Linked DNA regions of Homo sapiens: all the other regions are linked to region 1. The links come from fine-mapping of genetic effects on gene expression. A gene starts in region 1. Each other region holds a variant in brackets. All regions are shown on one strand. Distances are between the middles of the regions.

The links.
Region 2: its variant is fine-mapped to the expression of KCTD12 in whole blood (TOPMed, PIP above 0.99).
Region 3: its variant is fine-mapped to the expression of KCTD12 in whole blood (TOPMed, PIP above 0.99).
Region 4: its variant is fine-mapped to the expression of KCTD12 in whole blood (TOPMed, PIP above 0.99).

Annotation. Positions count from the first base shown.
Region 1 is chr13:76,885,374-76,887,873 of GRCh38, reverse strand. It overlaps KCTD12 (potassium channel tetramerization domain containing 12), which reads left to right and starts at 1,469. Exons shown (of 1, transcript NM_138444.4): 1 at 1,469-2,500. The coding sequence starts at 1,726. RefSeq lists silencers at 1,242-1,671, 2,072-2,341 and an enhancer at 1,955-2,454.
Region 2 is chr13:76,821,454-76,823,953 of GRCh38, reverse strand. No RefSeq gene overlaps it. Among named protein-coding and RNA genes, the nearest start is that of KCTD12, 64 kb to the left of the region's middle. The variant C/G (reference allele first, on the strand shown) is at 1,180.
Region 3 is chr13:76,763,274-76,765,773 of GRCh38, reverse strand. The region is part of intron 1 of LOC105370265 (a long non-coding RNA gene); the gene reads left to right. Among named protein-coding and RNA genes, the nearest start is that of KCTD12, 120 kb to the left of the region's middle. The variant C/T (reference allele first, on the strand shown) is at 1,144.
Region 4 is chr13:76,735,369-76,738,128 of GRCh38, reverse strand. All of the region lies in intron 1 of LOC105370265 (a long non-coding RNA gene), which reads left to right. Among named protein-coding and RNA genes, the nearest start is that of KCTD12, 150 kb to the left of the region's middle. The variant A/T (reference allele first, on the strand shown) is at 1,246.

The DNA of each region.
Region 1 (2,500 bases):
GATTTATCCTGATGTGTGGTCTATACTTCAAACTGATGTGATAACTGCGCAGACCCCTGACCCTTTGCTTATTGGGCTACACTGAAAGCGCTTTGGAGATTATTCGCCTTTGCATTCCTCACTCCCTGGTGCCCTGCAAATAATAGCAGGTACACAAGAAACATTCAGTGACCCAATCATTTCTTGACACCCTCCTCTGCACTCTTCTCTTTTTGCAGCATTCAGGAGCTCTTACTTATTTTCATACCCAAATCAGTGATCAGATAATCACTCATAAATATGACATTTCAGAACGTGCTGGGAGCAGCGCAGACAGTGTGTAGGGAGCCATCCAGAGGCCCCACCCACCTGGGAAGCCAGGGAAAGCTTCCAGGGGGAGGGGGCGGTTCTGTGGGCTGCAGTCCGAGGGGGAAAAGCAAACGTGTAGGCAGCAGGAGTTGAGAGATGGGATCCAGACAAGGGCCTTCAGATATATAAATATCCCTTTCTGAGACTGACGGGAACTTGGACAGGGCCGAAGAGTGACCGAGGCATGCGGGAGAGAAGGGGCGCCTGGACTTTTGGAAGGATAAACATGCAGGCGCCAAAGGTGGCTTTAAAAATTACGTTAGATCTGCAACTGTTGTGAGTCTAAGGGCGCGATTCAACGAAGGCTGAATGGGACCCGGAGACCGAACGTTCCGGAGTCTTACCCCTTCACTTCGAAGTGAAGTGCCTCGAAGGCCCTGCGGGAAGAGGGAATTGCAATTAAGAGCAGATTTGAAGCTTCATCTCATTTTGTCTCTGCAGCCAGAAAATAAACTATCGTAAAGCATCCTACTGCGGGACACTGAGGTTTGCTTTTTGTTTCTAGGTTTATTTATTTATTTTCCAGGCTGGCTGCAAGGCAACTTGAACAAAATCTGGCTGCGCTCGGACTGGGGCGGCTCTTTCGTCTCTCCAGGTTTTTCGCGTCTCTCTACTTTCAGTGACACGACAACCAACGATGGCAGGCCGCAGCTGCACTGCTGGAAGCGCCCAGTTCCGCAGGCGGGAGGGCCGGAGGCGGCCACGCATTTCCACTCCCGGGGCGACAGGCTTCCGAAAGTTCACGTCCTCCTTCCAGAGTCCTTGGGTGCGGGCTGGGGCGAGAGGGGAGGGGGCGCGGTGACTGTCCCTCCAAGGAGCTGTCTTCCGAAGCCGCCAAGTCTCGGGCGGGTCCTCTTCGGAAGAGGGAGAAAGTTGGGCGGGACCACGGGGCGGGGCTGGTGGGTGGGGAGCGGGTGGGAGTCCGGGCGCCCCCAGCGCTCGCGAGCCGGGGTGGAGCCAGCAGCCCCGCGTGGCGTCCGCGTTTAAGATGCAAATCGAGTCCCCGCTCCCCACCTCCCCTCGCCCGGTAAGCGAGGCTCCGCCGCCGCCCACGCCTCCTGCGCGCCACGGCACCAGAGCAGGCGGCTCTACTTAAGCAGCGCGCGGGCCGCGACCCGGCACTCGCCTGGAGCGCGCGGGCAAGGCGGGCGGAGCGCACTGGAACTCAAGGGGGCGCACAGCGGCGCGCTCGCACCGCTCGGCTCCGCGCGGCTCTAGGAGGTGGCGGCGGTGGCGGTGGCGGCGGTGGCGGCGGCGGCGGCGGCGGGGCGCAGGGCTGAGCGAGCGTCCGGGTTCCGGGGCTCCGGGGAAGGCGGTTGCAGCTCCTGAGTGCAGCGCGGCTTCCTGCCACTGTCCCGGCCCGGCCACCTCTCTGTCATGGCTCTGGCGGACAGCACACGTGGATTACCCAACGGGGGCGGCGGCGGGGGCGGCAGTGGCTCCTCGTCGTCCTCCGCGGAGCCACCGCTCTTCCCCGACATCGTGGAGCTGAACGTGGGGGGCCAGGTGTACGTGACCCGGCGCTGCACGGTGGTGTCGGTGCCCGACTCGCTGCTCTGGCGCATGTTCACGCAGCAGCAGCCGCAGGAGCTGGCCCGGGACAGCAAAGGCCGCTTCTTTCTGGACCGGGACGGCTTCCTCTTCCGCTACATCCTGGATTACCTGCGGGACTTGCAGCTCGTGCTGCCCGACTACTTCCCCGAGCGCAGCCGGCTGCAGCGCGAGGCCGAGTACTTCGAGCTGCCAGAGCTCGTGCGCCGCCTCGGGGCGCCCCAGCAGCCCGGCCCGGGGCCGCCGCCCTCGCGGCGCGGGGTGCACAAGGAGGGCTCGCTGGGTGACGAGCTGCTGCCGCTTGGCTACTCGGAGCCCGAACAGCAGGAGGGCGCCTCTGCCGGGGCGCCGTCGCCCACGCTGGAGCTGGCTAGCCGCAGTCCGTCCGGGGGCGCGGCGGGCCCGCTGCTCACGCCGTCCCAGTCGCTGGACGGCAGCCGGCGCTCGGGCTACATCACCATCGGCTACCGCGGCTCCTACACCATCGGGCGGGACGCGCAGGCGGACGCCAAGTTCCGGCGAGTGGCGCGCATCACCGTTTGCGGAAAGACGTCGCTGGCCAAGGAGGTGTTTGGGGACACCCTGAACGAAAGCCGGGACC
Region 2 (2,500 bases), 64 kb after region 1:
AATGTGGGGCTACCCTGGGAATTTCATCTGAGACCTTATTTCTTAATCATTGCAATGCTCACCAACCTCTTCTGTGTTAATCTCAAATTGTCACCCTCTGCTCTGTGACTCCAGTTTGAAATTTCTGTTGTGTCTCATTCCAGTTTTCCACATCTACCTCCCTCCATCTCTCTGGAGTTAGTATCTCCTGAATCAGTTCCTAGCCTGGCTCAGGCCACATGAATTTCAGGCATTGTTTAGGAAAACAGAATTTGATTTGGGTGTCTCTAATGGCTTTGTCATTCCTTGTACTAATATTTAAACTTCTAAGGGTCTAATTTCAGTTATAGGAAAGTCTAACCTAGGATGGAATGACTTTGGATCATCAGCCTCATTATTGTCATCAGAAAGAATTGGTTTACTGCATTGAGCCTGGTTCTTTTCTGGGAATGGAGTATAGCAAGTTAAATAGGTATGACCCTCATCTGCATACATATTTCCATGACTAGACTTTACATTACACAAATAATTTAAAGTAGACTAAAGAAAGTATACACACAATAAAATAGTGAAACCTAAATTTTGAAAATAATAGAGCCAAGAGGTAAAGCATATTTGAGTAGACGTCCAGGTCGGAAGGAAATAGAAAATGCACATACGCTAAGTGTATCAAAGGGCTGAGATCCAGACCTTGTTGGAGAGGATATAGCTGTGGCTGACTGGATGGCAGACAAGTCCCTGTGATACTGTGCTGACAAAATTATCTAGAAATTAGCCCTCAGGAACTTGATAGTTCCTGTCCAGGGTGTTGGAGACAGCTGTTCACAAGGAGGTATCTCACCAGAGGAACTCTGCTACAAATCTGCCCAAGGGGGTTGTTGGGGGTACTGCTGGCTGCTGGGTGATGTTGGCCACTGTACCTTGTGGGAGCTGAGCCCTGGAGAAGCTGCTCCACTGCAGGTGCTGGGCTCTGGGAAGCCACATGTGTTGTGCTGTGTTGTAGGAGGAGCCTGGAGAAGCTATGAAGTCTAAAGGAGCCTGGAGGCCATGCAGCAGAACCAGGAAACTAAATACTTTCCTTCTGTGATGCTTCTCCAGAGCCCTCTACTGACAGAGTTTAACATCGTACCAGATGACAAAGGAAAAACACTTAAAGGGCCCTAGCTTCATCCATGTCCCTGCAAAGGACATGATCTTGTT[C/G]CTTTTTATGGCTGCGTAGTATTCCATGGTGTATATGTACCATATTTTCTTTATCCAGTCTATCATTGATGGGCATTTGGGTTGATTCCATCAGACAGAAGTATTAATAAGCTTTCTTCCATTGAACCATTCTCCGTATTAAAATAAAATGTTTTGTGAAAATTTGCTTTAAGAATTTTAGAATATACCCTTTCTGTAGATCATGATTAAGTTTGCATTATAAAATGGACATGTCTCAGTAACTAGCTAGTGGTTAAGAGCACTGTCTCTGAAGCTAGTCTGCCTGGGTTCAAATCCTGGGTCTGTCCCTTATTCTGTGTGCCCTCAGTTGAGTTACACAGGCTTCCTATCTGCAAAATGAGAATAATGACATTCACTTGATGGAGTAGTCATAAGGATTTATAGGTCTCAGAAGGTACCCAACACATCATCAACACTATTCAGATAAAAACCAGTGCTTCCAGATTAGTGAGAGAAGCTGAAGGGTCATATCTGTTTCTGCCAGCGTGTTTGCTTGAAGAATTAACTGCTGACTTGTTTTTCCCTGGCTCCCCTAGTAAACTACCTTGAACACAGTATGTGGAGCCTGAAATTTAAACTCAGGGTTCCTGGTGATTTGGAATCTCTAGCATAATAAAGGAAATGAAGCGAGTGGACAGATAGGCAGAAAGGAAGATGGAAATGCAGAGAGCAATAGGGTATCCTCTGTGGTTTAGTGCCTGAAGCAGAGTGGAAAGCGAGAAAGGTCCCGTGATCAAGGATGGGAAGCAAGAGCAGGAGCAGAGAGGGAAGTGGGAATCACAGACAGGTAAGGCTTGACGCCTGCCCACTCCTCCTCTGTCCTTTTTGTGGATAACACACATTGCTTACCCTAGCTGGGTGCCAGCTGATATGGTTTGGAATTGTGTCCCCACCCAAATCTCATCTTGGAGCTCCCATAATTCCCACATGTTGTGGGAGGGGCCTGGTGGGAGATAATTGAATTATGGGGGCTGGTCTTTCTTATGCTGTTATTGTGATACAAATAAGTCTCATGAGATCTGATGGTATTATAAAGGGGAGTTACCCTGCACAAGCTCTCTTTGCCTGCCACCATCCACTTAAGACGTGACTTGCTCCACCTTGCCTTCTGCCATGATTGTGAGGCCTCCTGCACCACATGGAACTGTGAGTCCAATTAAACCTCTTTCTTTTGTAAATTGCCCAGTCTTGGGTATGTCTTTATCAGCAGCATGAAAATGGACTAATGCACCAGTCCACCACAGCAACATTTTGCCAAAGATTCAATTGGCTTCTGATATGGTTTGGCTGTGTCCCCACC
Region 3 (2,500 bases), 120 kb after region 1:
TAGCCTTGTAATAAGAGAAAATTTGGACACAGACACATATGGAGGAAAGCCTATAAGAACATAGCAAGAAGGCAGCCATCTACAAGCCAAGGAGAGAGGCCCCAGCAAAAACCAACCCTGCCAACACCTTGGTCTCATACTTCTAGCCTCCAGAACTGTGAGAAAAGAAATTTCTGTTGTTTATACTACCTGCTCTGTGGTATTTTATTATGACAGCCCTAGCAAGCTAATATATAATTGTTTTTATTATTACTAGTTTTAGCATAACAAAAAACAGTTCCTGTGACTAGACATCCTGGGTTCAAATTCTGGCCTCACTATTTATGAGTTTATAAGACCTTAGATCGTTCTGGTTCCTCCAAGATGGGGTAGATACATTCCTCGTAGGTCCTTTACAACTAAAAATCTTGGGCTTAATACAACACACCAGCATTGGAAGTCTTTGAAAAGCGAAAGAAGGCCGAGCTGCCCAGGACTTCAGGACCTGAGGAATGGCACTGTGGTGAGCTCCTGGGCTCTCTTATTTCCTCCTGAGTATCTTGCACAGGTGCTGTAGAAGCCTTTAAACCAGAGCCACAAACAGGCACAGACATAAAAAGCTCTGACAAAGGCCTGTTTCTAGGCAAAGGACCAGGAAGCATTTTGGCAGTACCTACCCTACTCTAGACAAATGCCAACCACCAATGGAAAAATGCCCCTCTACCCCTTACCCCCTGCTGGGCAGAAGATTCCATTCTCCTACCAGATGGTGCTAGCAGGACCAAATGAAACCAGGCTGTGCAATTCTCCTGCCAGGTTGGTGTCAGTGGGGTCCAGTGGTGATTTGAGTCTCCATCTAGACCCAGCAGCAATGAGACTTAAGTACATGCTGGGGTTCATCCGTGCTGCACTTTTTTTTCTGGTGTTAGTGGGGCCAAGTGGGGAGCTGAGCATCCACCCCCATCCAGTAGCAACAAGACAGAATTATGTGATGGGAGGCAGGCTAGTTGGTGCTCTGCTTCCCTCCCTCTCCTTACCTTGTGTCAGTGGAGCCCAGTGGGGTGGGAGTTGGTGTCCTGTTTCACCAGGAAGGTGTCACCAGAGCCGAAGAGGAAGCAGAATAGGAACAACCTATCTGCAATGAAGCAGTGTGAGTCAGTGTCC[C/T]ACTCTTGCCAAGGGAGGGTTTTCAGGGCCCAGTGGGAACTTGGAAGTACACACCCACCCAACCCTTGCACTGCACTTCCCAAGGGGACTTCCTGCTAAAAACAGAAGATTCAATAGGGTGTAGAGTTTCATAATAGAATATCTACAATTCCCAGAATACAATAGAAAGTCATGTGTCATTCTAAAAACCAGGAAGATCACAACATGCATGAGAGAAGCAAGCAGATGTGGAAGTGATCAGACAAATATTTTATAGCAGTCATTATAAAAGTTCCCCAGAAACAATTAAAAAATTCTTTTGAAACAAATAAAAAATTAGGAAATCTAAGCAAAGAAGTAGCAGTCATTAAAAAAACATGAAAATTGTAGAATTGAAAAAATTCAGTAACCAAAGTAAAACCTAGCTGGATGGGCTCAGTAGCACAATGGAGATGATAGAGGACTGAACCAGTGAATTTGAGGACAGATCAATAGAATAGACTCACTATGGATAAGACAGAAAATAGGCTGAAAAACAAAGGCCTTGGAGAAGTTACTTAAATTGTCTGGATTTTATTTCACTCATCTTTAAAATGAGGAACATAATTGTAGCTATGTCAAAAACAAATTTTGTGACAATTAATTGAGATATATAATAAAGGCTTATCTGATGCAATGCCAGGCACATAGTTCTCAATAAAATTTAATCTCTATAATTATTATAATTTCCCTGGGTAGATAGCCATGTGATTTCATCTCTGTACAGTTAATTCAATTCAATAAGCATTTATTAATCACCAGCTGTACACCAGTGAGAAGTAATATTTAGGCTACATGGTCTGGTGGAAACGACATAAGGAGTTAAATTCATATCCAGAATCTGCTACTTCTCAGCTGCGTGATCTTGGACATGATTTTGAGATGCCTGTTTCCCACCTATAAAATGATCAAAGGGCCTATCTAAAAGGGCTGCTTTTTGGAAGGATTAAGGAGCATCTGGTACATAGCAGAGGGAGAAAAATATTGGTTATATTCCTTGAATTTTCATCACAGACTATTAGTTGTATTGAGGTATAATGCTATACAAAGAACTGCATATATTTAATGTATACATGTTAATGAGTTTGGACATATGTAAACACCTGTGATCCTATCACCACAATCAAGGTAATAGACATATCCAACACCTCCCCGATTTTTCTCATCAAAGATTATTTTCCCCAACCATTCAAATTTTTTGAACATATAGAAAGGTTGCAAGAATAGTATAAGAAACACTCATAAAACTTCCACTTAATCCAAGATGATTTGAACAAATAATTTGAGCATGACATTATAGTAATTTGTGAGAAGTATAAAAGAGGAGATTGGCCTCCTT
Region 4 (2,760 bases), 150 kb after region 1:
TTTGGTTACTCAATGATTTCTTCTTTACACCCTTACCTTCTCCTCAGAGCAGATAATGCCCAAATCCTATCTGTATTAATTCACATGGGCTGCCATAACCAAGTACCACAAACCGAATAGCTTAAACAACAGAAATTTGTCTCACAGTTCTGGAGGCTAGACAGTCCAAGATCAAGATGTTGGCAGGGTTGGTGCCTTCTTCCGGCTGTGAGGAAGAATCTGTCCCATGCTGTCCCCTGGCTTCTGGTGGTTTGTGGCAGTCTTTAGCCTTCCTTGGCTTGTAGAAACAGCCCTCAGTCTCTGCCTTCACTTCACATGGTGTTCTCCTTGCATGCTGTCTTGTCCAAATTTCCCCTTTTTGGAAGGACATCAGTCATACTGGATTAGGGGCCCACCTGTTTTAGTATGACCCCGTCTTAACTAATTCCGTCTGCAATGGCTCTATTTCCAAATAAGGCGACATTCTGAGGTCCTGGGGATTAGGACTTCAACACAGGCATTTGGGGGCAGACACAATTCAACCCATAAGACCATCCAATAACTGCACTGAGCTCCATAACTAGAAAACCTTGTCATCAGTTCTAGATGCAGCTCTGTGTGCCATAGCAGCACAGAAATTGAACTGCATAGGTCCCTTCCCCCATACTCATCCAATATACCAAGGCAGAGTAAGAAGAGCACAATTATGACAAAAGCCCCATTTAGAAAAAGAGAGTGGAGGCTGGGTGCGGTAGCTCATGCCTGTAATCCCAGCACTTTGGGAGGTGGAGGCCAGCGGCTCACAAGGTCAGGAGATCGAGACCATCCTGGCCAACATGGTGAAACCCTGTCTCTACTAAAAATACAAAAATTGGCTGGGTGTGGTGGCGCACACCTGTAATCCTAGCTACTTGGGAGGTGGAGGCAGGAGAATCCCTTGAACCCAGGAGTTGGAGGTTGCATTGAGCCGAGATCGTGCCACTGCATTCCAGCCTGGTGACAGAGTGAAACTCTGTCTCAAAAAAAAAAAAAAAAAAAAAAAGAGTGGAGAACCAATGGCAGTAATTGTTCCACAGCAATTGTCTTACCTGCTGGGTGGGACTCTCTGCCTTGGCATTAGAGGAAGCGCCATGGTTTTTCCCTTGGGAAGTCCTGAATCTAGTCCATGGAGGATATTCTCTCTTGCTTGTTGTTTCTTGTGGCCACTGGGTTTGCTCTCTCATTTTTAATTCCTTGTTCATTTGTCCCCATGTTGATTCTGAGGTG[A/T]GCCTCAGAGAATGCCCAACTGAAGGTTGCAGAAGCCTTGTGGCTGCATAAGTCCCCACGATGTAGTTCCAGGACCTGAGCATTGCTTTGAGGACTGATCTGTCACTGTCTTTTGTAGGCTAGGTTTGAGGTTGCTTTAGCAGTACAAAAAGGCTTACAATTGCTTTGCTTCTGGTCAGTTCCATAGGTAAGAAACATACAGTGAAATATCTTATGTAGAGATGATAGAGGCCTGGACTAGGTGGAGGCAAAGAAGGTGCCCAAAGCACAAAGTGGAAGGAGGCATGCACTGTCAGGTGCTGCTCTGCCCTTGCCCAAGCCTGAGAATGAGGGCTTCTTTAGTTTTGTGTGCTGGGCACTTCCTTTTTTGTTTTGTTTTGTTTCTTTTGAGACAGGGTCTCACTTTGTCACTCAGGCTGGTCTTGAACTCCTGGACTCAAGCCGTCCACCCACCTCAGCCTCTCAAAATGCTGGGATTATAGGAGTGAGCCACCACACTGGGCCCCCCGGGCCTTCTTCTTTCTCACCCTTGCCTTGGCCCTGAGAGATTATATTTAACTCTAAAGTCTCTGGCCTTTAATTTACTGATCTCTTGGCTTTGCTTTTCCTATTTCCCTTCTACCAACTTAATGATGGCTTTAACAGTGGATTTATTTAGCAAAACACCACTTTTATTTTTATTTTTGGCTTGCAAGCTCATAAGATTTGTAGGACAGGACACCATTCTTATCTCCTGCTAAGGCTACTGCTTTGCTGCTGCCACAAAATCCCTCTTCACTTTGGGGTACATATGTTGACTTTTTCAACCCTGCCAGGATTCAGATTATGAGTCTTTCTGTCAAGTTGTAGGGGAGGCCACAAGCAGAGAGTGCTTCCCTCAGCCAAGTGATGTTTCCTTCATCTCTGCTTGCAGACTCATTAGCTCCGACCTTGAGTAATTTTGCAAAAGGTGGCAAGAAGGAGCTAGCAAACACTACGTTTTCCTTACACTGCAGCCTCAGTCAGCAGGTCATCTGCCTTTTAAGGTCAGAGGGTTTCATTTTGACCAAGGGTTTTACCACTGCAAAATGAATGCTGTCAGCTTTCCAGACCTCAGTGCTTAAATTCTCAATGCCAACTATTTGATTGCATCTACTAAGCCATTGCAATATTTTTAAATGTTGTCACGAATCTCTCCAATTTCAGGTTTTAAGTCCTGTATCAGATAAGATTACACCAGTGTGCACATGACAGAGAACTTAAATACGTTTAAACACACATGATATTTCTCTCATGTGAAAAGTTGAGAGGGAGGCAGTTCCTGGCTGGTATGAGGTATTTGGGCCCCTTCCTGCTCTCACCTCCACAGTTCCTAAGGTGCAGGCTTCATTTACATGTTCCAAAAGAGCCATTCCTGCTTTAGCCATCACTGTGATGTTCTGGGCAGTGGGATGAAGGAAGGGTGAAGAAGGATATGCTCTCTGCCTTAGAAGACTTCTCAGAAGTTTCATACATCACCTCTGCTTACCTTGATTG